2 separate regions of the Homo sapiens genome follow, and region 1 is linked to region 2. Evidence: fine-mapped QTL for protein levels in blood plasma. Region 2 holds a variant in brackets. A gene starts in the other region. All regions are shown on their forward strands.

The links. PIP is the posterior inclusion probability: the model's chance that the variant is causal. Protein levels are from antibody-based Olink assays in UK Biobank. Linkage for the fine-mapping came from a reference panel and not from the study's own genotypes, which makes the PIPs less certain.
Region 1: CXCL11 starts here. The variant in region 2 is fine-mapped to the plasma level of the CXCL11 protein (UK Biobank, PIP 0.99).

Annotation. Positions count from the first base shown.
Region 1 is chr4:76,025,544-76,039,644 of GRCh38, forward strand. It overlaps CXCL11 (C-X-C motif chemokine ligand 11), which reads right to left and starts at 10,527. Exons shown (of 4, transcript NM_005409.5): 1 at 10,384-10,527; 2 at 9,673-9,799; 3 at 9,504-9,576; 4 at 8,139-9,273. The coding sequence starts at 10,444. The coding sequence ends at 9,250. It also overlaps a transcript of ART3 not described here and the pseudogene RPL36P8.
Region 2 is chr7:99,190,390-99,206,629 of GRCh38, forward strand. KPNA7 (karyopherin subunit alpha 7) reads right to left here. Exons shown (of 11, transcript NM_001145715.3): 3 at 12,717-12,851; 4 at 5,695-5,777; 5 at 4,681-4,949; 6 at 2,630-2,712. Among named protein-coding and RNA genes, the nearest start is that of KPNA7, 9.6 kb to the right of the region's middle. RefSeq lists a silencer at 317-611. The variant G/A (reference allele first, on the strand shown) is at 4,973.

The DNA.
Region 1 (14,101 bases), not on the chromosome of region 2:
TCATTTTATTCTTATAATAACATCTACCTCTGACCCAGCCACTCTTCTATTTTTTTCACCATAGATTATTTTTGCCTGTTCTAGAACTTCATATAAATGGAACCACTTGAGTATATACTCTTTTGTGCAAGACATCTTTTGCTCAGTATAATGTTTCTTAGATTCATCGATGTAGTTGCATGAATTAGTAATTTGTTTCTCTTTATTGATGGGTAGTAATCCATTGCACAAACATATCAGTTTGTTTCTTGTTGATGGACACCTTGACTGTGTTCAGATTTTAGTTATTATATATAAAGCTGCTACGAAGATTTTTTTATAATTTTTTTTCTGGGCATATGCTTTCATTTTGTGGGGTACATATGTAGCAGTGGAACATGATCACTTACTTTTTTTATTTAAAAAACGTAAGTGATCACGTCACTCTTCTGCTTAAGACCTCAAACAACTTCCAGTTAGAATAAAATCCAAATTTCTAATTAAGCTGCTTTACTAAATCCTCTATGATCTGGCTGCTACCTATTTGTCCAACCTCATATCATTCCTTCTCAACCACTACAATCCAGTCAGTGGCCCATACACTGGCAATTTTCTCCATCTGGTATGCTTTTCCTCCTGTTCGTCACATAGAGAGTTCCTTCTGGACATTTAAATTTTAGCTGGCTTGTACCTTCTCTTGTCACACAATCTGAAGCAGACATGACTTTAATTCTCTACATGGCATTTCATACTATCTGATATTCAGTTCATTCATTTTTTTTAATTAGTGTAATGTCTGTTTCTCCATGCTAAAATGTATGCCCCAGGAGAACAGGGAACTAAAATGCATATGAGAGGCATTTGGTAAATATTGGATAGAAGGATGGTTGAATGAATCTTTACAGACTTTAAGTGACAGCATACCAGGATTGTATTTCAAGAAGTATTTCCATTTGTTCATCAGATTTCTGAATCTGGACATGAGTATTATTGTTTTCCTTAGCTTTAAGAACCAAGTTTAATTTAAGAAGACTATAATTTCCCCAGAAGTTAGTTTAGATTTAAGTAGGTAAAATCAATACAGATATTCTCAGCTAGCTATAGGACAGACTCTTCATTCCGGAACTCTGGTAAATATAGAGTGGTACCCCTAAAAGCTTCTTAGTTATTTGCTGTTTTTTTATCTGTAATTAAGCATTGAATGAATGAATGCAGGAATGCAAATATCCTCAGTGCATATCATGTATATGGCCATGGATGGTGTTAGAAGAAGGAGGAGAAGTAGGCTTGTTCTCATTATTTTCTGTGCACTTTGTGTAGGGAACTAAGCTAATCTCAGGGAATACTAGAAGGGTTGAGATCCAATATTTATCCTTGATGGGTTTACATTCTAATTGGGAAGACCAGAAACTATGAAACAATAAATATCAATAAGAGAAACTTTATGGGCCGGGCAAGGTGGCTCATGCCTGTAATCCCAGCACTTTGGGAGGCCCAGGCGGGTGGATCACCTTAGGTCAGGAGTTCTAGAACAGCCTGGCCAACATCGTGAAACCCTGTCTCTACTAAAAATACAAAAAATTGGCTGGGCGTGGTGGTGGGCGACTGTAATCCCAGCTACACAGGAGGCTGAGGCAGGAGAATCACTTGAACCCTGGAGACGGAGGTTGCAGTGAGCCGAGATCACGCCATTGCACTCTAGCCTGGGCAACAAGAGCGAAACTCCGTTTCAAAAAAAAGAAAAGAAAAAAAGAAACTTTATGATCAGTACCAAATGAGTGGTATAGAAAATAAATAATGTGGAGGTTCATAGGAGACTGTACTCATTAAGGTCAGAAGTTTTCAGAAGATCCTTCAGAAAAAAAGACCTCAGATGAGCCATAAAGTGTGAATGTTACTTAAGTAAGTGGCCAGGAGAGGAAAGCTTGTGCAATTACAGATAAATGTCATCAAAAAATGGTAAAGGGGGAAGCCAACCAACCAGTCAGAAAAATTGGTAGACTCATAGGGGTGATAATGCCGTGTTAGGATTCTATAAAATCTGGTCCTCAGTTTTTCCAGTCCAGAAATTCTCATTTTTTCCTAATCATCCAGGGTAAGCATATTCTCAGAGAGTTAACTCTGCTAACCAAATCTCAGATAGACTAAGATGAAAATTAAAAGACAGTGTATCCATTACAATCCATTACATTTGATGACAGATAAATGTCATCAAAAAATGGTAAAGGGGGAAGCCAACCAACCAGTCAGGAAGATTGGTAGACTCATAGGGGTGATAATGCCGTGTTAGGATTCTATAAAATCTGGTCCTCAGTTTTTCCAGTCCAGAAATTCTCATTTTTTCCTAATCATCCAGGGTAAGCATATTCTCAGAGAGTTAACTCTGCTAACCAAATCTCAGATAGACTAAGATGAAAATTAAAAGACAGTGTATCCATTTACAATGAGAACCTTTTCAGTGACTAGGATGATTGGTTTTGGTATCCAAGTCACCCCTTTCCCAAGATCAGATTGCCTAGGAAATTGAATTAGTATCAGAACAGTACCTGGTGAGCAGAGTCAAACGAAGGACCCTTCTCTTCTTGTTTTAAATGAGGGTTCTGCTCAGGGTAGAAACCTGACAAATGTGATCAACATGGAAAATCATTTAGAAAAAAAAAATCAAACTTTTAGAGACAGTAGCAAGCCCACTATTACTTATTTCACCCAAAGCCAAGACTGCATGTGTCATTTGAATAAAAATCTAAATGATAACTCTTTTTATATATTTCTCTCAATTTTTGCAACGTTTATGGTATAATCACGTTCCTAGAATTCACTGATCTGAGTATAATTTTGAAAGAAAATGAAAGTTAAGGAAGTATCCCGCTTTAGTTTCCGTTTCAGTCGCTATTGATTTATCTTTAAGCCTGTGATTATGGCATCAGGCCAAAAAAGACAACAATGAAAAAAGGAACAGTCTGCCCTGACAAACTAATGAGCACAGACGAAGGCAAAAATGCTTTCCCGGAAACTGTTATGCTTAGAAGAAATTTTCTAAAAAGTGAGCAGGAGGACATCAGTGATTTCTGTGGACTGGGAATCCCCTCAGCTGGTGCAGAATATGCCTTGGAAAGTATGGGAGAGCAGGGCAAAGCTTCCCCTTCACAGTTTTCACTCTGAGCTCTCAAAAGATTCCCCGAGCTCACAGTGTTTGGTAATACTGGTTACATACTTTTCAATTACCCATGTGTCTCATCCTTCATAGCCAGCCTAAGCAGAGGGCAAACTGAGTGCTGGCAAAGTGGGTGGTAGACCCTAACAATCATCATGGCATTGGAGGAGGCAGAGGCTCAGAATAGCTTCTGTTTGGATACATTTTAGGCTATGCAGTGTTTCTGAACTCGCGCACTTGAGAGGACTTTTACAAATATGGCAGATTTCATCATTTGGAGGAAGAGACAAAATTGGAGGACATTATAATAAAGTAAATGTGTTTGGGGGAAGTATGGTGCATTTCTTTCTCCTTCCCATAAATAAGATATTTCAACAAAATAAATTAGAATTTTGTGATACTTTGTTCCATTTTTAATCAAAATCTTTAGAAAATGTCTAGTTTTAATTTTAATTGATTCATCATTGGTTGTCTTTTCTTTTGAGAAGAGGAATCTTGAGATATGATATAGTTCAGTAGTGCCTGTTATTCCATATTTTAGATTATCATTCAGTTTTCTTCAACTTCTTATTGACAGTTTGTCTTTGTGAACAATTTGAAGAAGAATGCTAAGTCAGGATTTATTATATAGAGTCTATAATTCACGTTAGGGCATTTCCAATTTAGTAGCAGTTTATTGAGCAGCACTAAGGAACTATGAATACATCTGTACTTATGGTGCCAGGATTTTTAGGACGTATTCTTCTTAGGTACTTAAGTGAAACTATGGTTTCAGTGTTATGTGATAATCTCAGACTTGCTCAATTTCATTACCAGTGTCTGGTTAATAAAATTTGCAGACAAGGCAAGAAGAAGCAACTAAAATTGCCTCATTCACCCCTTCTCCAAAAAAAACCCTAACAGTTTTTTTTGTGTGTGTACTACTTATAATCCACAGAATGTGCTGACCATATCATAAAGATTTATAATTGTTGGCTATGAAAATCTTTTCAGAAATAGATACAAAGAGGTATATTAATTCCATGTGGGCATATTAGGTCCTGTACTCAGTAGCCAAAAATAATTAAGTATAATCTTTCCTTTTCTAATAGCATTATCCAAAACTACTCCATTTGTTTGAAAGCTCTTCTTGGCTAATTAGAGGAAACAGTCCTGAAATTTTAAGTCACTGTGAGTGTTTGGCATCTTAAGTTCCATGTATTTAAAATCGAATCTGCAGTTTTTTCTGCTAAACTACATCTTCCCCCTCATATCCCTATTTCTGTTAGTGACAGAACTATTCTTTCAGACCTCAGAAGTTCAGCCTTTTTTCCTTGTCTCTTCTCTGCTTTAAATTCAGACTCAAATCCTTAACATGTTCTTTGTTTCTTTTTTGCATCTTCAACTTTCTTTTTCTGAGATGGAGTCTCGCTCTATGTAGCCCAGGCTGGAGTGCAATGACGCGATCTCGGCTCACTGCAACCTCCACCTCCCGGGTTCAAGCGATTCTCCTGCCTCAGCCTCCTGAGTAGCTGGGATTACAGGCATGCACCACCATGCCCAGCTAATTTTTTGTATCTTTGGTAGAGACGGGGTTTCACCATGTTGGCCAGGCTGGTCTTGAACTGCTGACCTCGTGATCCACCCGCCTCGGCCTCCCAAAGTGCTGGGATTACAGGCGTGAGCCACCGTGTCTGGCCTCAGCTTCAACTTTCACATCCAATCTATCACTGTCTTGATTATTTTTGTACAGTGTACTTGTCATTATATTTCTACTCTTACCAATACCACCTTAGTGTAGCCCTTCTTCTTTTTATGATAGTAAAATACAAATAACATAAAATTTACCATTTTAACCATTTAAAAGAGTACAATTCAGTGGAGTTAAGTACTTTCACAGTGCTGTGAAGCCATCACCATAATTTAGTTCCAGAACATTTTCATCACCCAGAAACTCCATACTCATTAAGTAGTTACTCCTCATTAACACCTCCCCCAAACCCCAGTCAGCTAATTTGCTTTTTGTTTTTATGGTTTTGCCTACTCTAGATATTTCCTATAAAATGGAATCATACAATATGTGGTCCCTTGTGTCTGGCTTTTTTTACTTAGCATATTTTCAAGGTTCATCCATGTTGTAGCATGTATCAGTACTTCATTCCTTTTTATGGCCGAATAATCTATTGTGTGTGTATACCACATTTTATCCATTCACTTGTTGATGGATATTTGGGTTGTTTCTGCTTTCTGGCTGTTGTGTATAATGCTGCTATGAACATTTGTGTACCAGTTTTTGTTTAAAGAGCTGTTTCAGTTCTTTTGGGTATATACCTAGGAATGGAATTGCTGGATTATATAGTAATATATAATTACTATAATTATGTTTAACTTATTGCAGAGCCAGCCCCATTACTTTTCACACCAGTGTTTCCCAAAGTGTGGGACACTACCATGTACATTGATAATAACGTTTAGTATCAGTGAATTATTCTCTTCTTAACTTCAATCCCTCTGATTAATTAAATCAGGGGGAATATTAGTATTTTTTCATTGTATTTTGTTTTATCATTACATTTTATTTCCATGGCATGTATTACCGATTTTACATGTACAGTAGTGAAAGTTTACTTTTCATGTAAATGTACGTAAAATAAAGTGGTATACAGAGTTTCTAAAAATATAATGAAGATCAAACAGAGAAATGTTAAAAAAAAATTGTAAAGATGATATGAGAATGCCTTGAAGTTTTGGAAATACAGACCTGAGATATTGCAGCTATTGCAGCAAATCCCAACTGATTTTCCTCCTCCACTCTTTCCCACTTTCAATCAACCATTCATGCAATTCCCAGAATATTTTCCAATGACTTTGATAGGGTCACTCTCTTCTTCACAAACATTTATTGAATCCCCATTTTGTACAGAGTAAAATTCAAGGTTATTTACAGTTTCATGTCCTTCATCCTTCCAACCAAACGAATCTAATTATGATTCCTAAAAATCACTTTATACTTCCTACTACTGTACATTCCCTTGTGTCATTCCTCTGCTGTAAATTCCTTTTCCCTTAGTTTATATTGCCATTCAATAGGGTCTGATATGCACCAGAAACTGTACTGTTGGCCTGGGCTACAGCAGCTTTCTTTTACACTTATGAGAGAGCAGATATTAGGCACAGGAATAATTCATTAATTACAATTGCAGTAAGTAGTATGATGGAAAAATAGAGAGTGTTATGGAAATAAATAAATAGGACACCTAATCTAGTTAAAGCTGAAGTGGTGGTTTCAAAGGCTTCTTGGAGAAAAAGTCATTTAAGCTGAGACCTAAGCAATTAGTAGGCATTAGCTTAGTGAAGAAATGGGCAGAGAGAATAGTATGTGCAAAGGTACCAAGGTGGGGAGGATCTTGGCTCAAATATGTTAATTATTAATATTTCATATATTTATTTTGCTATGAAGAACTTTAGGTGTATGTTTTCTTCTCAGTAATAATGTACTGGCCTATAATATTTAATATACTTCTTACAAATACCAATTTATCATGCAGCCTTAACTCTGTGAATTTTTTTTTTTTTTGAGGCAGGCTTTTGCCCAGGCTGGAGTGCAGTGGTGTGATCACAGCTGACTGCAGCCTCAACCTCCCAGACCCAAGTGATCCATCCACCTCAGCTTCCCAAGTAGCTGAGGTTACAGGCATGTGCCACCATACCCAGCTAATTTTCCTATTTTTTATAGAGATGAATTTTCGCTATGTTGCCCAAGCTAGTCTTGAACTCCTGGGCTTAAGCCATTCACCTATGTTGGTCTCCCAAAGTGCTCAGATTATAGGTGTGAGCCACCATGCCCAGCTGACTATGTGAATTTTTATTTTTAAAGAGACTTAAAAAAAAAATCACTGTAAGTAGTCAAAGATTAGATTCAAGTCTTTTTTTTTTTTTTTTTTTTGAGGTGCAGTTTCACTCTTGTTGCCCAAGCTGGAATGCAATGGCATGATCTCAGCTCACTGCAACCTCTGCCTCCCGGGTTCAAGCGATTCTCCTGCCTCAGCTTCCTGAGTAGCTGGGATTACAGGCACGTGCCAGCAGCCTCGGCTAATTTTTTGCATTTTAAGTAGAAATGGGGTTTCACCATGTTAGCCATGCTGGTCTTGAACTCCTGACCTCAGGTGATCCGCCCGCTTCGGCCTCCCAAAGTGCTGGGATTACAGATGTGAGCCATCGCACCCAGCCAGATTCAGGTCTTAAAACTATCCAGGGAATTTATATGGAAGTCCCATCTCTATATAGATATTTATATAGATTTATATAACAATTTATTATAAATCTATATTGTATCTATAACCTATATAATAATGCAATATAGATATATCTGATTATAATCCTATAATAAATATTTTTATTTTTCAAATGTATGGGTGCCTATATAGAGAGTACTGCTATCAGTCAAGGCTTTTGGTTACATGCAGAGAAACCAACTCTGGCTATCTTAAGGAGAAAAAGAATTTAGTTGGAGGTTGAAGAATCCACAGGACAATGGAGAATAAGTCTTGGAAAATGGACAAAGACCTAAGGGAACTAGGTGATAGGAAGGACTAGCCAGAGTCATGCTACAGGAACACACATTGGGAAGACACTACTGTAAGACTTTCATTGTTTCTCCTGCTGCTGCCAGGCTTGAAATAATTTTCTTACTAATAGTATCTTTGTGATGCCAGCTGGAGTTCAAAGTCTAGGGTAGAAACAGCATGGCTGAGTCCTTGTTGTGGCTACAGGAGAGGATCTCCTGTCTTTGGCTTCTCTCTTTTGGCCTCCCACCAACACTCACATAAGGGATTTTCTCCAAGTAAGAAGGGGGTTTGGACTATCAAGACCCCCCAAGGCCGACAAAAGAAACAACTGTCTTTCCCACCTACCCATTAAAATATATTTCTAAACAGTTTTTCATGATGACGGATAGGTGTATGTTTCTGAAATATAAGGCAAAATTGTTAAAGGCATCTCAAATGTCCTGGAAAGTATATAGATCTTTTTTTAAAAAAGAAAGGTTGTGGTAGTTTATTAGAGAAAAAAATGACTTTGATTCTTTAAACTAGTCTTGAGTATACCTAAATTTTACAGTATATAGGCATGAACAAAGAAATTGATTAGATTATGTATTTTTCTAAGAGACAGAATTACAAAAAGTAAAAGTGATTGCTAGGTATACATTTGCTTATTTTTCAACATTTTTCTTTGGTAGACAAAAACATTTTGTATTTCAGATGTGTCCAAGATATTGCTATCATTTATACAAACGGATCAAAACAAAAAGTACAGTAAACACACATATCCTAATTGCTTCAAAACATCTCAATGAATAAAAGTTGAAAAACATCAAATTAAGACTGGTGCTACTAATTTGGTTATGAAATATGTGCACTTTTGCCAGTATCCCATAGCGTATAATTTTTTTCATAGTACATTTTATGAATTACATTTAATGAATTGGTTATAAAACAAACCAAATGATGCATAAGAATGTCTCCCTACATATTGATGTGCTACATGATGTTTGGGGAAAGAAGTGTGTATTTGCATGAAAAAATGTTTGAGGAATGTTTTACGACACATAGATGCTTTTGACTTATAAGGGCTTGACTCCAGTAATAATGTCAATGTCTCCACCGTAACCACAGATAGTAATATAGCATAAAGATCAATACAGACAGATGACTTCTAGAGACAGAAATGTTCTCATAGTCACAACAGAATAGTTGTAAGCATCAAATCTAGAAGGTTCTCTAGCCTAGAAATGCATGAATGTATAATGCAACAAGTAAGAACGTGAAAGCACTTTGTAAACTCCGATGGTAACCAGCCTTTCTTAAGGTAGCTTTTCCTAGAAATCCATTTAATTGTTGGACTCCTTTGGGCAGTGGAATTCTGATTGTCATTCATTCAGGAAGACTGTATTTCTGTTTTTGGTCCTTTCACCCACCTTTCATCCTTCACATAACTGTACAAAAGTTGAAAGTCACAAAACCATAGAAAAGTCTCAGTTTCCTACTGTAGAATTCTTGTCATTTCAGTAGTCACAGTTAAACTTGTTCTAGGTTTTTCAGATGCTCTTTTCCAGGACTTCATATGTTTTGATATTTTTAAAAATTCTTTCTTTCAACTTTCTGGAATAAGAAAACAAGAGTTTTATTTACTTGGGCTGTTCTTGTTTCCCCCAGGACATCTAAAAACATGTAGTAAGAAGGGGAAGCTGTTACAACCAAGGACCCCTTAACAGAATATTTCACACAGGATCATAGCAGAATCTTTCTGTAGTTGTCCACATTATTTTCTTTTTCAAAAGATCTGTCTTGGATAAAACAGATTATAACATGGGAGTAATTTGGTAACTTACTTTGATTATAAGCCTTGCTTGCTTCGATTTGGGATTTAGGCATCGTTGTCCTTTATTTTCTTTCAGGGTAATACTGTTAAAAGAACATACAAGAGTCTTAAAGTTTAGATGCAAATACATAAACAAAAAAGCCTGCACCATTGTCATCTTCAGCAAGTTCATTACTTACATCACTTCTATTTTGTCACAGTTGTTACTTGGGTACATTATGGAGGCTTTCTCAATATCTGCCACTTTCACTGCTTTTACCCCAGGGCCTATGCAAAGACAGCGTCCTCTTTTGAACATGGGGAAGCCTAGAATAGATCATAGCATTAGTTAGTAATGCATCTGATTGCAACAGATGGCTGTGGTTTATAGCTGGTGGTGAACGTGAGCAGAATTTTCATTAAGGGTAAAGATAGTAATTTGTCAAATAGCACTTAACACAACTGTTACTGGGAAAAGTTAAGTAAGATGTTGATTATTTTCTCATTAAATTAGTAAGCAAATCGCTAACAAATGGGAAGCATGAAGGAAGTTTATTGGAGGTGAAGCTTGTTTTGCCCCCTTGATTTTATCCTCAAATATTTTCCCAGGAAGCTTGTTAACATGATCGCTATATAAAATCTTCTTAACAGACATTTAAAACTGTTGCTAAAGGCTTTTGCCAGATATTCTAGCCAAATCAAAAATTCCATGAAGTTCATAATTTCTAGTTTCAATAATCATCTCTAGTATCTTAAACATGTCCACCATTTCTGTGCTAAAGCTGTAGTAACTTCTAATCTGTGAGATTAAATAAAACTTTATCATGTCTTTTAGGATAAAAGTGGAAGAAAAGACATTTGAAACATTAGAAAAGGAACTTATAGGTTGAGAAATAAAAATTACTGCATACCTTGAACAACTGTAGCACACAATATCACAGCCAAGGCTATAGCCATGCCCTTCACACTCATGTTTGTTTTTTGCTGTTGCTGCTGGTGCTGCTGCTGCTACTTCAGCTTTGCTGCTCTTCTTGGAAGGAGTAGAAATGCTGAACATGAAAGGAAATTGATAATTGGCATATATAGAGCATTTTATACACCAGCAATCCTTTTATGGCACAGGAATTTCCCTCTTTGAGTCATGCACCTTTCCTGCTTCCAAGAGTTTCTGTTTTGTTCTCTTCTAAATGTTACTGTCCCTTCCTATTTGCAGTAGTGTTGAAAGTGATAAGAATGTGAAAGCACTGTGAAAACCCAGATGGTAACCAGCCTTCTTAAGGTAGCTTTTCCTAGAAATCCATTTAATTGTCGGACTACTTTGGGCAGCGGAATTCTGATTGTCATTCATTCAGGAAGACTGTGTTTCTGTTTTTGGTCCTTTCACCCACCCTTCATCCTTCACATATCTATACAAAATAATATTCTGAAAAGCTTTTTTTTATTATCTCACTTTTGCTTTTCAGTCCAAACTCTTATAATAGATAAGGCCTATATTATTTGACACCAGATGACCTTTATTCAATTTCATATTTTTACCTGTAAATGAGTGCCTAAAGAAGTTTCCCTGTGTTTCTGTATTTATGTCCATATTGTTTTGCATTTTCAACAATTTTTACTTTATATATTTTATTTTGTTTTGCTTTATTTTATTTTTAAATTTAATTTAATTTTATTACTTTATTTTATATTTATTTTATTCTGCAAAGCTTTCATTATAGGCAGATGGCAGGGGGCTCAGTCCTTCTTGGCAGCTGCTTTCCTCATGGCAGCCAGGACGTTGCTCAGCTCCTCCTGCCTTCTCTTGGTGCAGATGTTTGTCCCTACCCTTTTCTTGATGAATTTGAGGGCCTGTTTGACCTTGGAGACCTTCAGTAACTCCATGCCACGCCACTCGTTAGGGGTGAAGCCACACACCTCTGGGATCATGTCCCACACAAATTTAGTGAGTTTGGTCAGGCGCCCACAGTGGCTGTGCCTGGGCTTGCTCACATTCTTGGTCACCTTGTGGCCCTTGTTGAGGCCCACAGCTATAGGGTAGTGCAGTGTCATGGCTGCTGCCCTCCAATGGTGGCCATGGTGGAAAGCTACTTTATATATATTTTAGCACTGTTACTTAGTACATGAAGTTGTATGAGTTGTATTAGGGATCATAAAAAAAAGTGATCCTCTTTGCTCATGTGATAGTTTTACCTCTGAGATTCTACTTTGATGTAATTCCTATTTTTTTGTCTTTATCTTTTCCTCTTAAGCTTCCTAAATCTTTGTTTTAAGTGTGTCACTTGTAGATGTTTAAGAAAATCATATCAAAGGAGCTTTCTAATGGGTAAGCTTAATAAAATATATTTACTGTATAACTGGTAATCTGTAATTTTTAAAATGCTTCCTTGCTGATTCTTTATGTTTTCTTTGATTTCTTTCTAACTTTAAATATATTTTATTTAACTTTTTGAAGCCATTTTTGTTTTTTTTAATGAGATGGGTCTCACTCTGTCACCATTCTGGAGTCGAGTGGCACAATCATAGCTCACTGCAGCCATGAACTCCAGGCCTCAAGCAATCCTCCTGCCTTGGTCTCCCAAAGTGCTAGGATTACTGGGATGAGCCACGGTGCTTGGCCTTCCTTAAGTAATTTGAAAGGAATACATTGTTTTACATTTTGATATTAATTCTTAAAATTCTTTAAAAAGATTTTTACCTGAATTTTTCTAATTATTTACATCAACCATCAATAATATTTTTTTAGCTCCTGTCTTTGTAACATGAGAAAATCACTGTAACTTTCTTTCAAGAATTTTCTCCTATTTCCTAGTTTTACCAATAAAAGTTGGTATAATCGGGGAATTTATAGCCAGTTTATTACTTTTAGATTATTATTTTATCTTATTCAACTTCTTTTTTTGAGAATTATCATTTGCATTTTATCTTGAAATTATATATTTATTTAGATATAATCCTGCATTTAAATTCTTTAACAACCATGACTAGTCTTTAAAACCTTTGAAAGTCTTTACAGTAGTCCCCCATTAAATGAGAAATTCTAGAAATAATTCATAAGTTTTAAATTGTGCACTTTTCTGAGTAGCATGATGAAATCTCACATCATCTTGCTCCATCACTTCATCCCATCACATAGACATTTTATCATTTCACAGCATCACTAGAAGAGTGAGTATAGTACAATAAGATATTTGAAGAGAGAGAGACTACACAGTCACTTAACTTTTATTACAGAATATTGTTGTAATTATTCTATATATTAATGTTGATGCTCTTACTGTGGCTAATTTATAAATCAAACTTTTTTATAGGTATATATGTACAGGAAAAAATACAATATATACAGGGCTCAGTACTATCTGCAGTTTCAGGCACTCATTGGGGGTCTTGGAACATATCCCCCAAGGATAAGGTGAGGGGGCTACTGTATTTTAATTAATTTCCAAGTAGCTGGAATATTCTTTCCTTCTTTTCCATTAATTCATTTAACATATGTAAAGAAAGACTAATTTTCCCTCAGGAATATGGGTAAAGTAAAAGGAATGTGTTCTTGGAGCTCATAAATCCTTATCTGTTATTATTTTTTAATGTTGCTTTTCATTTTCTCAGCATTAGAAACACAGTAGAGCATAGTTGTTAATAGGGAAGGCTCTAGAGTCAGCCTGTGTTCAAATCCACCCTTGATTATTTATTTATTTATTTATTTATTTATTTATTTATTTATCTTTGAGATGGATTCTTGCTCTGTAGCCCAGGCTGGAGTGCAGTGGTGTGATCTCGACTCACCACAGCCTCTGCCTCCTGGATTCAAGTGATTCGCCTGCCTCAGCCTCCCAAGTAGCTGGGATTACAGGTGCGTGCCTCCATGCCTGGCTAATTTTTATAGTTTTAGTAGAGATGGTGTTTAGCCATGTTGGCCAAGCTGGTCTTGAACTCCTAACCTCAGGTGATCCTGCCGCCTTGGCCTCCCAAAGTGCTGGGATTACAGGCGTGAGCCACTGTGCCCAGCCCACATTCAGTTATTTATGAACAAGTTACCTCAACTTTTTGAGGCTATTTTCTCATCTATAGACTGGGGATAATAATAGTACTTTTTTTTTTTTTTGAGATGGAGTCTCTCTGTGCCACCCAGGCTGGAGTGCAGTGGCATGATCTCGGCTTACTGCAACCTCCGCCTCCTGGGTTCAAGCGATTTTCTTGCCTCAGCCTCCCAAGTAGCTGGGATTACAGGCATGTGTTACCACGCCCAGCCAATTTTTGTATTTTTAGTAGAGATGGGGTTTTACCATGTTGGCCAGGCTGGTCTCAGACCCCTTTTTCATAGGGCTGTTATAAACTAGGTATTAAAAGAGGTAATGCATATTAATCATTTAGAAAAATATGTAGCACTCAAAATGTATTAACTGCTATTATTATTATCAGTGTCCTTTCCTGAATTGGCATACCACATCTAGCTTGTTTTCAGCTGTTTTTCAGCATTAACACAAACACAACCACTTAATAAAAGATGAGTTGACATTGTTATAGCATATAAAAATATTTTAAATTATAATAACCATGAATATAAAAATAGCATACTAATCATAAAAATCACTTACAGAAAGTGCATGAATGCAATAGCATAGTTCAAAT
Region 2 (16,240 bases):
GCAACTGTGACACCAAACCTGGTTTTCTATGGCCAAATTAGCTGTTTCTACTTAGTCTTTTTGGCAGGCTCTGCCTGAATTTAGAACCTTAGAGCCCACAGGACTGGGTCTCAGGCTCTCCTCACACTCTAGGTCAGGGGTTGAAAACTTTTTCGGTAAAGGGCCAGATCTTAAACATTTTTAGCCTGTGGCTTCTGTGGCAACAACAACTGTCCTTGTAGACCAGACAGTATGTAAATGAGTGTGGCTGCATGCCAGTAAAACTTTTTTTTTTTTTTTGGGGGGAGACAGGGTCTCACTCCATCACCCAGGCTGGAGTGCAGTGGTGCAATCACAGCTCACTGCAGCCTCAAACTCAAGCGATCCTCTCGCCTTGCCTTCCCAAGTAGCTGGGACTACAGACACGTGCCACCATGCCCAGCTTGATAAAACTATTTACAAAGCAAGCGGCCAGCCAGGTCATGTTTGTGACCCCTGGCCCCAGCTGACCTTGCCTGGCTGGGTGACATATACACATATGTCACCTAGCAAGGTACATCTGTCAATCCGACTCTGCTGCAATGGTGTCTCCAACTCGCCTCAACTTCATGCCTGCAACACAAGCTCCAATTTCTTTTTTTCCTGCACTTTTCCCCTTTCTCTAGGAAGACAATCATCTGAACAATCTAACCTGAAACCTAGGGGCATCCTGGCTTCTTGCTGTCTCCCTTTCACGTCTAGAATGGCTATGTCCCAGACCCACCTGCTTCACCATCTCCCTCTGCTATACAATTTTTTTTTTTTTTTTGAGATGGAGTCTTGCTCTGTCACCAGGCTGGAGTACAGTGGCACAATCTCGGCTCACTGCAACCTCCACCTCCCAGGTTCAAGAGATTCTCCTGCCTCAGCCTCCTGAGTAGCTGGGAGTACAGGTGCGTGCCACCACACCCAGCTAATTTTTGTAATTTTAGGAGACGGGGTTTCACCGTGTTGGCCAGGATGGTCTTGATCTCTTGACCTCGTGATCTGCCCACCTCGGCCTCCCAAAGTGCTACCGCATCCGGCCTCTCTCTGCTATATAATTCTACGGCAGGCAACCAGAAGGGCCTTTCTGAAAGATCAGACCACTCTACTCCCTTGCCTCAAAATCCTCCAAAGCCTCCCTGCTGCTAGCAGGAAGATGTCTAAGCCCTTTTCCTGCTTGCCATCTTAAGTGTTCTCTACTTAAACTCTCTCGGTCATGGCTAGTCTTTTATTGGTTCAACCATGTCAGATTTTTCTCCCATCTTGAAGAGTTTTGAGACAGAGTCTTGCTCTGTTGCCCAGGCTGGGGCACAGTGGCGCAACCTTGGCTCACTGCAACCTTCGCCTCCCAGGTTCAATCAATTCTCCTGCCTCAGCCTCCCAAGTAGCTGGGACTACAGGAACGTGCCACCATGCCTGGCTAGTTTCTGTATTTTTAGTAGAGATAGGATTTCGCCATATTAGTCAGGCTGGTCTCAAACTCCTGACCTCAGGTGATCCACCCGCCTCAGCTTCCCAAATTGTTGGGATTACAGGTGTGAGCCACGGTTCCCAGATGAAGGTTTTGAACATAGTCCTCTGGCTGCTCTTCATTTTTGTTTGAGGCAAATCGAGAACCCAGTTCCTAAACCAGAAGTCCTCTTCAATCAATAACCACAAATCAACCAACCTTGACTCTAAGCCTCAAAAGAAGAGCCTGTTCCCCATGAACAGAACTGGTGAGACATTAACCCATTTATGCCAGAGGTTGCAAATTTTTTTGTGTGAAAAATCAGACCTTGGTAATGACCATGAGCAGTAGGATATAAATAACTCCCACAGGCTTAGTGTTCCAATAATGGAACACCAGGCATATATGCTAAACTGTGACCCTAGAATGGAGATTTCAGTCATCTATTTTGCAAGATGGCAAGCTTGTAGGCCTCTTCCAATGCCGCAAAGAGAAGGATCAGTGCTACTGGCCCCTAAAGACAGAGCTGAGTCAATCTTTACCTAAAATGATACTCAGTCCTAAGCCTTGCTATTATTAGTTTATTTAGAGACAGAGTCTCAACCTGTCACCCAGGCTGGAGTGCAGTGGTGTGATCTTGGCTCTCTGCAGCCTCCCTCTCCTGGGCTCAAGCAATCCTTCCACCTCAGCCTCCTGAGTAGCTGAGACTACAGGTGTACGCTACCATGCTCAGCTAATTTTTTTATTTTTAGAAGCATGGTCTCACTATGTTGCCCAGGCTGGTTTTGAACTCTTGGTGTCAAGTGATCCTTCTGTCTTGGCCTAGCAAGCACTGGAATCACAGACATGAGCCACCATGCCCAGTCTTGAGCCTTGTTTATGAGGTTCTAAGAGGCCAGGCAGCAGCCACATGATCTAGCATTGGATTTGGAAGTATGTCCCAATTTCCCAACATTAGAATTTGTTACCTAACGAGGTTCTCTCTCATTTAAAGACATCCACTTGGCCTGGTACTGTGGCTCACGTCCATAATCCCAGAACTTTGAGAGGTAGGAGGATTGCTTGAAGCCAGGAGTTCAAGACCAGCCTGGGCAGAATGGTGAGGCTCCATCTCTATTAAGATTATTTTAAAATTTTAATTTAAAAAAAAAAAAAGAGAAAGAAAAAGACACTTACCGGCAGGGTGGGTGAAATCAAGGCTAGGAGATGTGGGATGGCATTGCTTGTGATGACGTTATCTCTGAACTCTGGGCCATCACCTACAAATAGAGCAGAATGTGACATTTAGAGAGAGAACAAAGACAATCCTGAAGTGGGTGACTAATTTTTTAAGAGTGTGCAAAGGGCAAGAGACAAAAACTCATTCCCGGGTTTAGCAAGTAGGTAGTAGAGCCACGTACTAAATTCTGGAAGTCTGGCATGGCTGGTGGGTGGACAGTCCTGATGTAACAGGCAGGCATCACACAGCAGCAACTGCTAGAAGCAGAGCCAGCCAACTCAGCCAAGGTGGGCTGTTGGCATCTCACAGCATGGTTCTCAGGAAGACGAAGGCTGGTCCAGACCAAGTTGTCTTCCCAGAAGACCTTGGCACAGGGCAGTAACTTCCAATGCAACTCAGAACAAAGTCTGGGGATCTGCAGGTGCTGGTGACCAGCCATCAGCTACCTTAGCTAGGATAACAATTTTAGACCCTAGAAGTCTATTTGTATTTGTCAACCATCAAAGGCAAGTCATCACATTGTACCATCCAGTCTTGCCTACTTTACTGCACCAAGCAAAATGAGAGACAACTTCTCTAATAGGCACTTTTTCCTCCTGCAGCCTTTTATTTTTTTTTTTTGGCGGGGGAGGGGGATACAGGATCTCACTCTATTGCCCTGGCTGGAGTGCAGTGGTGCAATCATAGCTCACTGCAGCCTCGACCTCCAGAACTCAAGCAATTGTCCCACCGTAGCCTCCTGAGTAGCTGGGACTATAGGCATACACCACTATGCCTGGTGAATATTTTTATTTTTTGTAGAGATAAGTTCTCACTACATTGCCCAGGCTGGTCTCAAACTCCTGGGCTCAAGCCATCCTCCCACCTCTGCCTCCTAAAGTGCTGAGATTAAAGGCATGAGTCACTACGCCAAGCCTCTGCAAGCTTTTGTTTTCTTTTAGCAGTTATTTTATATTCTGTTTGCTAATTCCAATATGTGGAGTCCTTGGAGGTCTAATCATACTGTTTCTGCTGACTCAGTCACGGGAGTTATTGCTTCTCTGAACTTGAAAATGCTAATAGTCGGCTGATCTTAATTTGTCAAAATCCTGAGGGACCTAATTGAGTTTTCCCTAGAAAGTCACTGGATTGATGTCAGCCAAGAATCTGGGGGCTTCCGACCCTACAGCACTAATTCACTAGACCATGCAGGAAAGAGCATCGATTGCCACATTCAGAAAGGTAGTCTGAGGATTCCACTTTCAGGGAAGGCTTGTTAGCCCAAACCAAGGAGTTTTTTTTTGTTGTTGTTGTTTTGTTTTTGTTTTTGGCACGTTCCCTTAGCAACTTCCACTGAAGGCAGAGTCCTTCTGGGGTCCCGAGTTATGTAAGGGTCTATCATAAACTCCCACACTGCATAAGCCAAAGACTTGTTCTTGAAGCCACGAAGCCCTGAGGCTGTAGGACCTTAGTGTTGGCAGATGTCTCTAGTTAGCCTGTGGCTTCAGTATACACTGTATCATCCTGTTTCAGCTTCAATATTTGGCCTCTAAACTTGGATTTGAGGGCTTTTGGTGTTTTGAGACAGAATCTCCCTCTGTTGCCCACACTGGAGTACAGTGGCGTTATCTTGGTTCACTGCAACTTCCTCCTCCCAGGTTCAAGCGATTCTCCTGCCTCAGCCTCCCGAGTAGCTGGGACTACAGGGCATGCACCACCATGCCTGGCTAATTTTTGTATATTTAGTAGAGACGGGGTTTCACCATGTTGGCCAGGCTGGTCTTGAACTCCTGACCTCAAGTGATCCGTCCGCCTTGGCCTCCCAACATGCTGGGATTACAGACGTGAGCCACCGTGCCTGGCCTGGCTTTGAGTTTGGAAACAGCTCATTGTACCCTTGCCAGCACTTCTAGGTATTTACATGGCAAAGTGTTCTGGGACATCGAGTATACCCCACCACCCAAAGAAACCTTATAGTATCCCACACACCTGGCCCCGTTTTCTTAGCCCACTAAGGGGAGAGTCTCACCGGCTATATTACCAAGAGCCCACACTGCCTGTTCACACACAGCCACGTTGGAGGAAGACAGGAGCTCAATCAAGGGCTGGATGGCTCCCCCTTCTACCACGGCACGAGTCTGCTCCGAAGTCCCTGAAGCGATGTTGGTCAGGGCCCAGGCAGCCTCAAACTGCAAGCAGGGGTAAAGTGATGACTTCAGGAACTCCACCATCCTGGGAATGAGGCCCGCTTCAATGACCAGTTTCAGAGGGGGGTTCTTTTCCTGGGATAGCATTTTCCTATGCAATGAAAGAGAGGGCAG[G/A]GGAGGGGGAGGTCAAGTGAGAGAGGTATTAAGGACCTCCTTTTAGGCCAGGTGCGGTGGCTCACACCTGTAATCTCAGCACTTTGGGAGACCAAGGCGGGCAGATCACTTGAGGTCGCAAGGTCAGGAGTTCGAGACCAGCCTGGCCAACATGGTGAAACCCCGTCCCATCTCTACTAAGAATATAAAAATTAGCTGGGTGTGGTGGTGCACACCTGTAATCTCAGCTTCTCTGGAGGCTTGAGGCAGGAGAATCACTTGAACCCAGTAGGCGGAGGTTGCAGTGAGCTAAGATCATACCATTGCACTCCAGCCTGGGTGACAGAGTGAGACTCCATCTCAAAAGAGAAAAAAAGAACCTCCTTTTATACATAAGCCACATAGCTGGGCCGGAGCTACTTAAGATCCTAGTGTTCAACCGATAGCATTTTTCGGTATTAAATCAACATTTTCCCCTTTAAGGTGTTATCTACAAGATGAAATTTCTGTAGAGGCCAATGTAAATTAAGCAATTCATCTCTGACAACACATCGAAGCTTTTAAATTGCCCTCAAGGACAGTGTAGAATAGCAATTTCGTCTTTTAGATGGGCTAGCCTTTTCCTGTGTTTTACGGGCATGTTGCCAATGCCAAGAAACCAAATAGGCCACCGGCGCTCCAGCCATCACTGACGCTCATTGCTAACTATGAACCTGCAACAGCAGAAGTCTGTTTGGAGATACCTGGCTGTCTGGGTGGCCTGGAAACATAGGACTGGATCTGAGCTATTCACACCTTTGATTATTTCACCCAGAGTGAGGCTGACCTGCAAGAAGAGACACATTCAGGTCAGACTGTCTGCCAAAATGAGCTGTAAACATCACCTACTCTAGCCATCATCCATCTGATTAAAACAGCCTGGCTTGAACAGGATGTCCCATCTTGCATGCTGTTCTATATTTGGGGAGGGGAGAATATAGTCCACAGATCTCACAGATCTGTGTGTTCCTTCCCATGCTTAGGGGAGAAGTAATTCCTATCATTAGTTGGATCCCAAGAACATTTTTATCCCGTGCAGTAAGAATGTGCTAGTGGATACAAAACAAAATGGCAGACTAAGGACATCCAAAAAATTCTCTCCTCCACATAGGCAAAGAGAAAACTGACAAAAATAGAATCAACTTTTTCAGCACTGTAGAAATTGACCAAAGGCTTGCGGCCAATTGTTTTATTCAAGCCAGGAAGTGTTTATCCAAGAAAGACAGCTGAATCTCAGTAAGTAGCATGAGAGCTTTGTGGCATTTTGACTTGCCCTATTCCCACCCACCCTCAGCTCCATGGTAACCCTGAAAACCAACAGTCCACAATCATTGTGAAAAACCAACAGCCTCCCAACCACCAGAAGAGGCAAAATAGGTAGGTCCTCCTTTGGAGCCTCATTCCCAGAAAATTATTATTTGATCTGTCTGGTCATTCCCTGAAAGATCCCACTTACAGACTATTTTGACTCAGAGCTTAGTCAGTATGAAAAGGCTTTTCCCTAAGAATGTTCATTGAAAACAGAGGAAGTTGTTTAACTTCACAGCTACCTGAGAGGTTGAATAAGAGTTGGGATAAACAACAGGCTAACAAAAAAACTTGAAAGGGAATGTCATGTATAGGGCTATGCATATGCTTAAAAACAACAACAACAACAACAACAACAACAACAAAACTAAGACCCTCAGCTCTTCCCTCTCACTGACTTTGAAGCTCTGTGCAAACAGGAAGTGAAGGCTTACGTCAGAATTGTCAACTGCCTGGCTGAGTGGTGAACGCATGCCCCCAACACAGAGCTTCTTGGCAAAAATTGAGTGTTCTTTTCTTCGTGGTTCGAAGTGTTAAAATAAGTCTCTAATTATTAGTTGACCACTGAGCAAACCAAGCAGACACTGCAGCAGCCACACATCACAAAAAAATACAGATTTTAGATAATTAGCTCAAACTACTAAACGAGCACACCCAGCAACAACAGCAAACCCTGGGGCAATGGAAAATCTGATTTCTAGAGTTGTCACACTATTTTAAATGACTAGTTTTCAACAAAGATTGTGAGACAAGCAAAGAAAGTGTGACACACACATATACATATATATGTGAAAAAAGCAATCAATAGCAATAGTCCCTGAGGAGACCAGATGTTGAACTAGACAAAGATTTTAAATATAGTCAAAGAACTAAACCATGACTAAAGAACTAAAGTGCAACAATGCTGTCACACTAAATAGAGAATATCAGTGAACAGATATCAGTTATTGGAAGGAGCCAGATACAAATTCTGGAATTGGAGAATACAATAACTGAAACAAAAATTCACTAAAGGGGCTTAACAGCAGATTTAAGCAGACATAATAAAGCAGCAGTGAAGCTGAAGATAGGTTAATTGGAATTATCCAGTCTGAGGAAGATAACACACACAAGAGAGACTGAAGATGAAAATTGACAGATCTTTAGAGATCTGTGGGACATCATCAAGGATACCAACAAATGCAGAATAGGAAGGAGAAGAGGGAAAGAGGCAGAAAGTATATTTAAAGAGATAATGGCCAAAGAAATTCCCAAATCCAATAGAATAATTAGTCTACACATCTGAAAAGTTCAATGAGCTCCAAACGGAATAAATCCCAAGATCCAGACATATTATAATCTAACTGTTGAAAGCCAAAACTACAGAATCAAAAACATTGAAACCAGCAAAAGAGAAGCAATTCATGTACAAAGCCTCAATAAGATTAACAGCTGATTTCTTATCAGAAAGCATCAAGGCCAAAAAGCTGAGGTGCAGTGAGCCAAGATTGCAGCATTGCACTCCAGCCTGGGTGATAAGAGTAAAACTCCATCTCAAAAAAAACAACAACAAAAAAACTTTACCAACTTTACAAAAAAAAATTCTCACTCATTCTTAGAGGCTAGTATTACTCTGATACCAAACCAAGGATATTACAAGAAAAGTATAAGCTAATATCCCTTATAACTACTGATGCAAAAATTCAACAAAATAGGAGGAAACCAAATGCCTAAACGTATGAAACATATGGTCAACATATTGGTCATCATGATGAATTAGGATTTAACTCAGGAATTCAGGAGTGGTTTAACATGTGAAAAAAAATCAACATAGTACCCCGTATTAATAAAGGGGGGGGAACCCACATGATCATCTCAATGCAGAAAAAACATTTAATGAAATTCAACATACTTCCATAATAAAAAAAAACACTCAACAAACTGGAATAAAAGGAAACTTCTTCATTCTGATAAAGGCATCTACAAAAAACTCAGAGGTAGCCTCATACTTAATGGTGAAAGTCTAAAAGATTTCCCCCAAGATCAGGAATAAGACAAGGATATTGCTCTTTTCACTTTTATCCAACATGGCATTGGAAGTTCTAGATGCATTAATTAGGCAACAAATAAAGTGCACCCAGATTGGAAAGGAAGAAATAAAACTATTTGCAAGTGACTTAATCTTATATGTAGAAAATCCTAAGGAATTTACACCAAAAGCCTAGAGCTAATAAAATTCAGCTAGGTTGCAGAATTGATATACAAAAATTAATTGTATCTTTACATGCTAGCAGTGATCAAAAATCAAAATAAAGCAATTTAATTTACAACATAAAAAGAATAAAATGCTTAGTAATAAATTTATTGAAAGAAATCCAAGAGTTATATGCTGCAAACTGAAAAAAAAAAAAAAAAAAAAAAAGGACTGAAATGAAAAGGTATCCCATGTTCATGGACTGGAAGACTTAACATTGTTAAGATGGCAATACTCCAACCTTATAAATTCAATGACTCCATTCTATAGGTTCAATGCAATCTCCATGAAAATCGGAGCTGCCCTTATTGTAGAAATTGACAATCTGATTTTAAAATTCATATGGAAATACAAAGGGTCCAGAATAGCCAAAATTATATTGAAAAAAAGAACAAAGCTGGAAGACTCACTTCCCAATTTCGAAACTTACCACAAAGCTACAGTAATCAAACCTTTGTTTGATGACAAAGATAAACGTATAGATCAATGGAAGAGAACTGAGAGTCCACAAATGAACCCTCACATTCACGGTCAATTGATTTTTTTGACAAAGGTACCAAGACAATTCAATGGGTAGAAAATAGTCTCAAATAACTGTGCTGGTACAACTATGTATCACATGCAAAAGCACAAAGTTGGACTCCCATTCTCACCATTTACAAAAATTAACTCCAAACGGCTCAAAGGCCTAAAAGTAAGAGCTAAAATTATGAACTCTTAGAAAGAAATATAGGCACAAATCTTTGTGACCTTAGATTAGGCAATGAATTTTTAGATATGATACCTAAAACACAAACAACCAAGAAAATAAACTAGACTTCTTCAAAATTAAAAAATTTTATGCTTCCAAGGATACTATCAAGAAAGTGAAAAGACAACCCACAGAACAGAATATATTTGCAAGTCATATCTGCTAAGGTTTAATATCTAGAATATATAAAGAATTCTTACAACTCAATAAAAAATAATTTATTTGACTTAAAAATGGACAAAGGGCTGGAATTTTTTTTTTGGTGGGGGGACACAGTCTCGCTCTCTTACTCAGGCTGGAGTGCAGTGGCACAATCTCAGCTCACTGCTCAAGCTATTCTCCTGCTTCAGCCTTCCTAATAGCTGGGACTACAGGTGCATGCCACCACACCCAGCTAATTTTTATGTTTTTAGTAGAGACAGGGTTTCACCATGTTGGCCAGGATGGTCTTGAACTCCTGACCTCAAGTGATCCATCCGCCTCAGCCTCCTAATATGCTGGGATTATAGGCATGAGCCATCAGGCCTGGCTAATTTTCGTATTTTTCGTAGAGACGCGGTTTCACCATGTTGGCCAGGCTGGTCTCGAACTCCTCAGCTCAAGTGATCCTCCTGCCTCAGCCTCCCAATGTGTTGGGATTACAGGCATGAGCCACCATGCCCGGCATCTGCTTTTGTCATCACATTGCTCTTCTTATAAGAATCATCGAATGCCAGGCCCACCCAGATAATCCAGTATCACCTCTCTATCTCAAAATCCTTAATTTAATCACATATGCTACATCCCTTTCCTCATAGAGTAATATTCACAGGTTTGGGGACTAGAAGATGCAGACACTTGGGGTGCCACGATACAGCCTACCACAAAGAGTGAAACAGGCTTAGTTCATAACCCAGTTATTCTCAGTGGAACTGAAGACACCCTTCCACACAAAAACTTGTACACAGATGTTAATAACAGCATTCATCATAACAACCAAAAAGTGGAAACAACCCAAAGTCCCCCAATTAATAAATAAACAAGGCCAGACACGGTGGCTCACACCTGTAATCCCAGCACTTTAGGAGGCCAAGGCAGGCAAATTGCTTGAGGTCAGGAGTTCGAGACCAGCCTGAACAACATGGTGAAACCCCATCTCTACTAAAATATAAAATTAGCAGGTGATGCATGCCTGTAATCCTAGCTACTCGGGAGGCTGAGGCAGGAGAATGGCTTGATCCCGGGAGACAAAAGTTGCAGTGAGCCGAGATTGTGCCATTGCATTCCAGCCTGGGTGACAGAGTGAGACTCCATCTTATAAACAAATAAATGGATAAACAAAATGTGGTCTCTCCATATAACAGATTATCATTCTGCCCAAAAGGAATGAAGTATTGATATATGCTACAACATGGATGAACTTTGAAAACATAAAAGCTCAACACAAAAGCTCACATGTTTATATGATTGCATTTCTAGGGAATGTCTAGAACAGGTCATTCCAGAGAGGCAGAAAGTAGACTAGTGTTTGCAGAGACGGTGGGGGATGAGGAATGGGGAGTGACTCCTGAATGACTGGAGTTTCTATTTGAGGTGATGAATAGGTTCTGGAATTAGCTAGTGGCAATGGTTGCACAACTTTGTGACTATGCTAGAAACCACTGATTAGGCACTTAAAGAGTGAATTTTGATGTGAATTATACCTTCATTTCTTTAAAAAATATGCTAATATGCCAAGCACAGTGGCTCATGCCTGTAAACCCAGCACTTCGGGAGGCTGAGGCAGACAGATCACAAGGTCAGGAGGTTGAGACCATTCGGGCTAACATGGTAAAAAACCGTCTCTACTAAAAATACAAAAAATTAGTTGGGTGTGGTGGTGGGCACCTGTAGTCCTAGCTACTCGGGAGGCTGAGGCAGAAGAATTGCTTGAACCCAGGAGGCGGAAGTTGCGGTGAGCCAAGATCGTGCCACTGCACTCCAGCCTGGGCGACAGAGTGAGACTCTGTCTCAAAAAAAAAAAGCTAATATGGGACCAAAAGAAAAACAACTTTTTGGGGTTGTTTGTTGGAGTGAGATGGAGTCTCACTCTGTCACCCATGGGTTGAAGTGCAGTGGCACGATCTTGACTTAGTGCCACCTCTGCCTCCCAGGTTCAAGCAACTCTCCTGCTCAGCCTCCTGAGTAGCTGGGATTACAGGCACCCACTACCACACCCGGCTAATTTTTGTATTCTTAGTAGAGATGGGGTTTCACCATGTTGGCCAGGCTGGTCTCGAACTCCTGACCTCAGGTGATCCACCCACCTCGGCCTCCCAAAGTGCTAGGACTACAGGTGTGAACCACTGTGCTTGGCCTTTTTTCCCTTTTGTTTTATACCATCCTTGGATGGGGGGATTCTAGGGACTGCTCCAAACAAATGAAGCTAACTAGAGATATAGTTTGGACTCCTATGGCAACTCAGAATGACTGTACACATTTCATTGATGAATGGGAACACATCATTGGACCCAATTTGACAAAAATGGAACCAGTCTCTGCCCTCTATGAGACCTAAACCAAGCAGGGTAAAAAGGGTGCATGTGGGTAGTTAAGGTAGGACAGACAGTGGTGTACCCCAAAAGAATATAGAGACACCATTATTGAGGTGCTAAGAAGGAAAACTTCCTGGTCAAGGCATTCGGTATTCACAGAAACCGGACTAACCTTGAAGTCAACCCAGGATCTGCATTTAATAAGGTTGGGGTAGATGGAGAAGGGAAGACAGGACAGAAGTCAAAGTGTTAGGAAAGACCTCACCCATCCAGGGACTAGATGCCTCTACTGAGAAATAACCTTCACCAACCCTCATTTCCTCGGTTTTCAGGCTTAGGGATAGCAAGTAAATTTTCAATTAGAAATATCACCTTTTTGGCCAGGTACAGGGGCTCACACCTGTAATCCCAGCACTTTGGGAGTCTGAGACAGGCAGGTCACCTGAGTCCAGGGGTTCGAGACCCTCCTGGTAAACATGGCAAAATCCTGTCTCTATAAAAAAATAAAAAATTCACCAGGCATGATGGTGAGTGCCTGTAGTCCCACATACTCTGGAAGCTGAGGCAGGAGGTTCGCTTGAACCCAGGGAGATTAGGGCTGCAATGAGCTCTGATTGTGCCACAGCACTCTATCCTGGGTGACAGAGTGAGACCTGTCTCAAAAAATAAAAATAAAAAGTATAATAAAAATCCTCTCCATCCCCCACTAGAATCTAGATTCCACAGACTCAGAGCCATAGGAGTAATGGCCATTAGCCTTTTGACAAAGGCAGTTTAGCTCAAACCATAATCTCTTCACTCCTTTCTTTAAAAGCCCAAAACGAGAGTTTGCAAGTTCTGAATCTATTAAATATTATCCAGCCAGAGACACTTGCTAAGAACATATTTTGCCCAAGACTACTCTAAACACTACATACTGACCGCCACCCCTTTGGCTGTTTTTTCAGAAGGTGTGTCAGGGCAGAAGCTCGTGATATTCCTTCTCTTTAAGGTCTGTTCATCTTTCTTGGCCTTTCGGAGCTCCAGACTGACCGCCATCCTCTGCTGTCGCCTCAGCTAGTGAGGAAAAGAAATTGGAGCATTTAGAACCAGGAGTGGGGATGTCACATTTAGTCTGTCAAACATGTTTCAAAGCATCCAATTTCATTTTTACAGATACAATAGGCTGGAAAAGTTCAGATCACACAGTTAGTAAATCATCTCAGCTCTGTTTACCTCCTCTTCTGTTTTCTGCTATACCACTTCTAGAAAATAATTTGATCTTCCCTCCAAAATAAAGCAAGACCATGCACAACCTTGACAGGTCAGGATTCTCAGCTATAAAAACACCCCAGCAAAGCATCCCATTGCCCTAAGTCTGAACACATCTTCATTGATGCTGATGATTTCCTGAAGAATATGGCTGCTTCCTGAATGTACCCAGGCCTTTTCGGTGGTGGCTAGGATAGATGGTGTTGGGGACGATTAGGGGACTGCCCATGTCCTAGATGCCCTGATCATTTCCACTATATTTATATATATATTTATATATTTGTTTTCTTTTTGAGATGGAGTCTCACTCTGTCACCCAGGCTGGAGGGCAGTGGCATGATCTCAGCCCACTACAACCTCTGCCTCTGGGGTTCAAGCCATTCTTGTGCCTCAGCCTCCCAAGTAGCTGGGATTACAGGCATGTGTCACCACACTCGGCTATGTTTTATATTTTTAGTAGAGATGGGGTTTCTCCATGTTGGCCAGGCTGCTCTTGAATTCCTAGGCTCAAGTGATCTACCTGCCTCAGTCTCCCAAAGTGCTGAGAATACAGGCTGAGCAACTGTGCATGGCCCATTTCCACTATTAATGAAACCTGTCTATAAGCCATTAAAGCCTTCATCCCCAAGTCTACATACTGAGGGAAATCAAAATTAAAACAAGGCTGGGCATGGTATCTCGTGCCTATAATCCCAGCACTTTGGGAGGTCAAGGTGGGAGGATCATTGAGGCCAGGAATTCTAGACCAGCCTGGACAACATAGCAAGACCCTGTTTCTACCAAAAAATTAGCTGGGCATGGTAGCATGCTCCTGTAGTCCCAGCTACTTGGGAGTCTGAGGTGGGAGGATCCCTTGAGCCAGGGAGGTCTAGGCTGCAGTGAGCTACGATTGTACCACTGCACTCCAGCCTGGGCAATAGAGCAAGACCCTGCCTCTACAAATCTCTCTCTCTCTCAATCTCTCTCTCCCCTCCCCGATCTTATGTCAGTTAATGACTCAAACTTTATAGTATTAAGAATCCTGAGGAAATGACCTAACCTTTCTAAATAGCTGAGTTTGGGCTGAAGACATTTCAGGAACAATTATAAAGAAGTCACCATGTATTAGATACTTTTGGTTCTTTAAGCTACTTAATTCTTGCTTGAAAATGGGTCATCAGCCGGGCACCGTGGCTCCCACCTGCAATCTCAGCACTTTGGGACACCAAGGCAGGAGGATTGCTTGAGCTCAGGAGTTCAAGACCAGCCCGGCCAACATAGTGAGACCCTGTCTCTACAAAGAAATAAAAAATTAGCCAGGCATGGTGCTACTTGGGAGGCTGAGGTGGGAGGATCACTTGAGCCTGGGAGGCAGAGGCTGCAGTGAACTATGATCGTGCCACTGCACTCCAGCCTGGATGACAGAGCAAGACCGTGTATCAAATAATAATAAAAGGAAAAAATTTAAAAGGGTCATGGTGGCATTATATGGCAAGGTAGGAACACATTTGGGAATCATTGAGCCCATCATACTGTTGCCCCATCGCTAGGCAGTTCCTGCCTGTAAAAACTTTTGTACCTTTCTCTCTTCTCTTTGGCAGGCCCTTCCTGTTGCTGTGAAGACTCAATTCCTTCGTTCTCACTGATTTCCTTTAATTTTCAGTGGTCCTAGAAGCCGGACAGCTTCATTGTTGGAATAGGTTACTGTAAGAGTGATTTGGTTCCTGGGCCAGGCACGGTGGCTCATGCCTGTAATCCCAGCACTTTGGGAGGCCGAGGCAGGGGGATCATGAGGTCAGAAGATCGAGACCATCCTGGCCAACATGTTGAAACCCCATCTCTACCAAAATGCAAAAAAAAAAATTAGCCGGGCATGGTGGTACACACCATGGTAGGCTGAGGCAGGAGAATTGCTTGAACCCAGGAGGCAGAGGTTGCAGTGAGCCAAGATCACGCCATTGCACTCCAGCCTGGTGACAGAGCAAGACTCCATCTCAAAAAAAAAAAAAAAAAAAAAAAAAGTGATTTTGTTCCTGATGGTGGCCTAACCAGGCTGCTGTGACCCTGTGCTTCCCTCGTTCTCCTAATCAGGCTTCTGGATTCCCAAGGTGGAGCTAAACTTATACGATGCCAGTCAAGATACAGAGATGGGGGGCTGGGAGCAGTGGCTCATGCCAGTAATCCCAGCACTTTGGGAGGCCAAGACAGGCAGATCACTTGAGGCCAGGAGTTTGAGACCAGCCTGGCCAACATGGCAAAACCCTGTCTCCACTAAAAATACAAAAAATTAGCCAGGCGTAATTGTGCACACCTGTAATCCCAGCTACTTGGGAGGCTGAGGCAGGAGAATCGCTTGAACCTGGGAGGCAGAGGTTGCAGTGAGCCAAGATCACACTGCTGCACTCCAGCCTGGACTATGAAGCAAGTCTTCATCTCAAAAATAAAAAGATACAGAGATGGAGGACAGAGCTTGCAACACAAAACTATGTGACCAAAGAAGCCGAGTGAATGTTAGAATCCATATACACAGCACACACCCCCCGTCCCCAGCCCTTGGGCTCAACCTGGAAGCAAGAACAGCCTGGACTTCTCAGTTCCAAGTCCTATTTCTACAAGGCATGCCTGTTGGCCATACCTATATGCTAACGTTTTAGCTCCTTGGTAAGCCTCATTGACGTGAGCAGCTGTAAACACCTGTATACTGGCCCTTGAGGAAGCAATCCAGCTCCTCGGAGATAAATAGCAGCCTGGTTTTTTATTTTTTTCAGACGAAGTCTCACACTGTCGCCTGGATGGAGTGCAGTGGCACAATCTCGACTCACTGCAACCTCCACCTCCCAGGTTCAAGCAGTTCTCCTGCTTCAGCCTCCCAAGTAGCTGGGATTACAGGCCCCCGCCACCATGCACATCTAATTTTTTGTATTCTTAGTACAGACAGGGTTTCACCATGTTGGCCAGGCTGGTCTCGAACTCCTGACCTCAAGTGATCACTTTGGCCTCCCAAAGTGCTGGAATTACAGGTGTGAGCCATCATGCCCAGCCCAGCCTGGTTTTTTATTTGGTTTTGTTTTAGAGACAGGGTCTGGCTCTGTCACCCAGATTGGAGTGCAGTGGCACAATCACAGTTCACTGCAGCCTTGAACTCCTGGGCTCAAGCAATCCTCCTGCCTCAGCCACCAGAGTATCTGAGACTACAGGCACACACCACCACACCT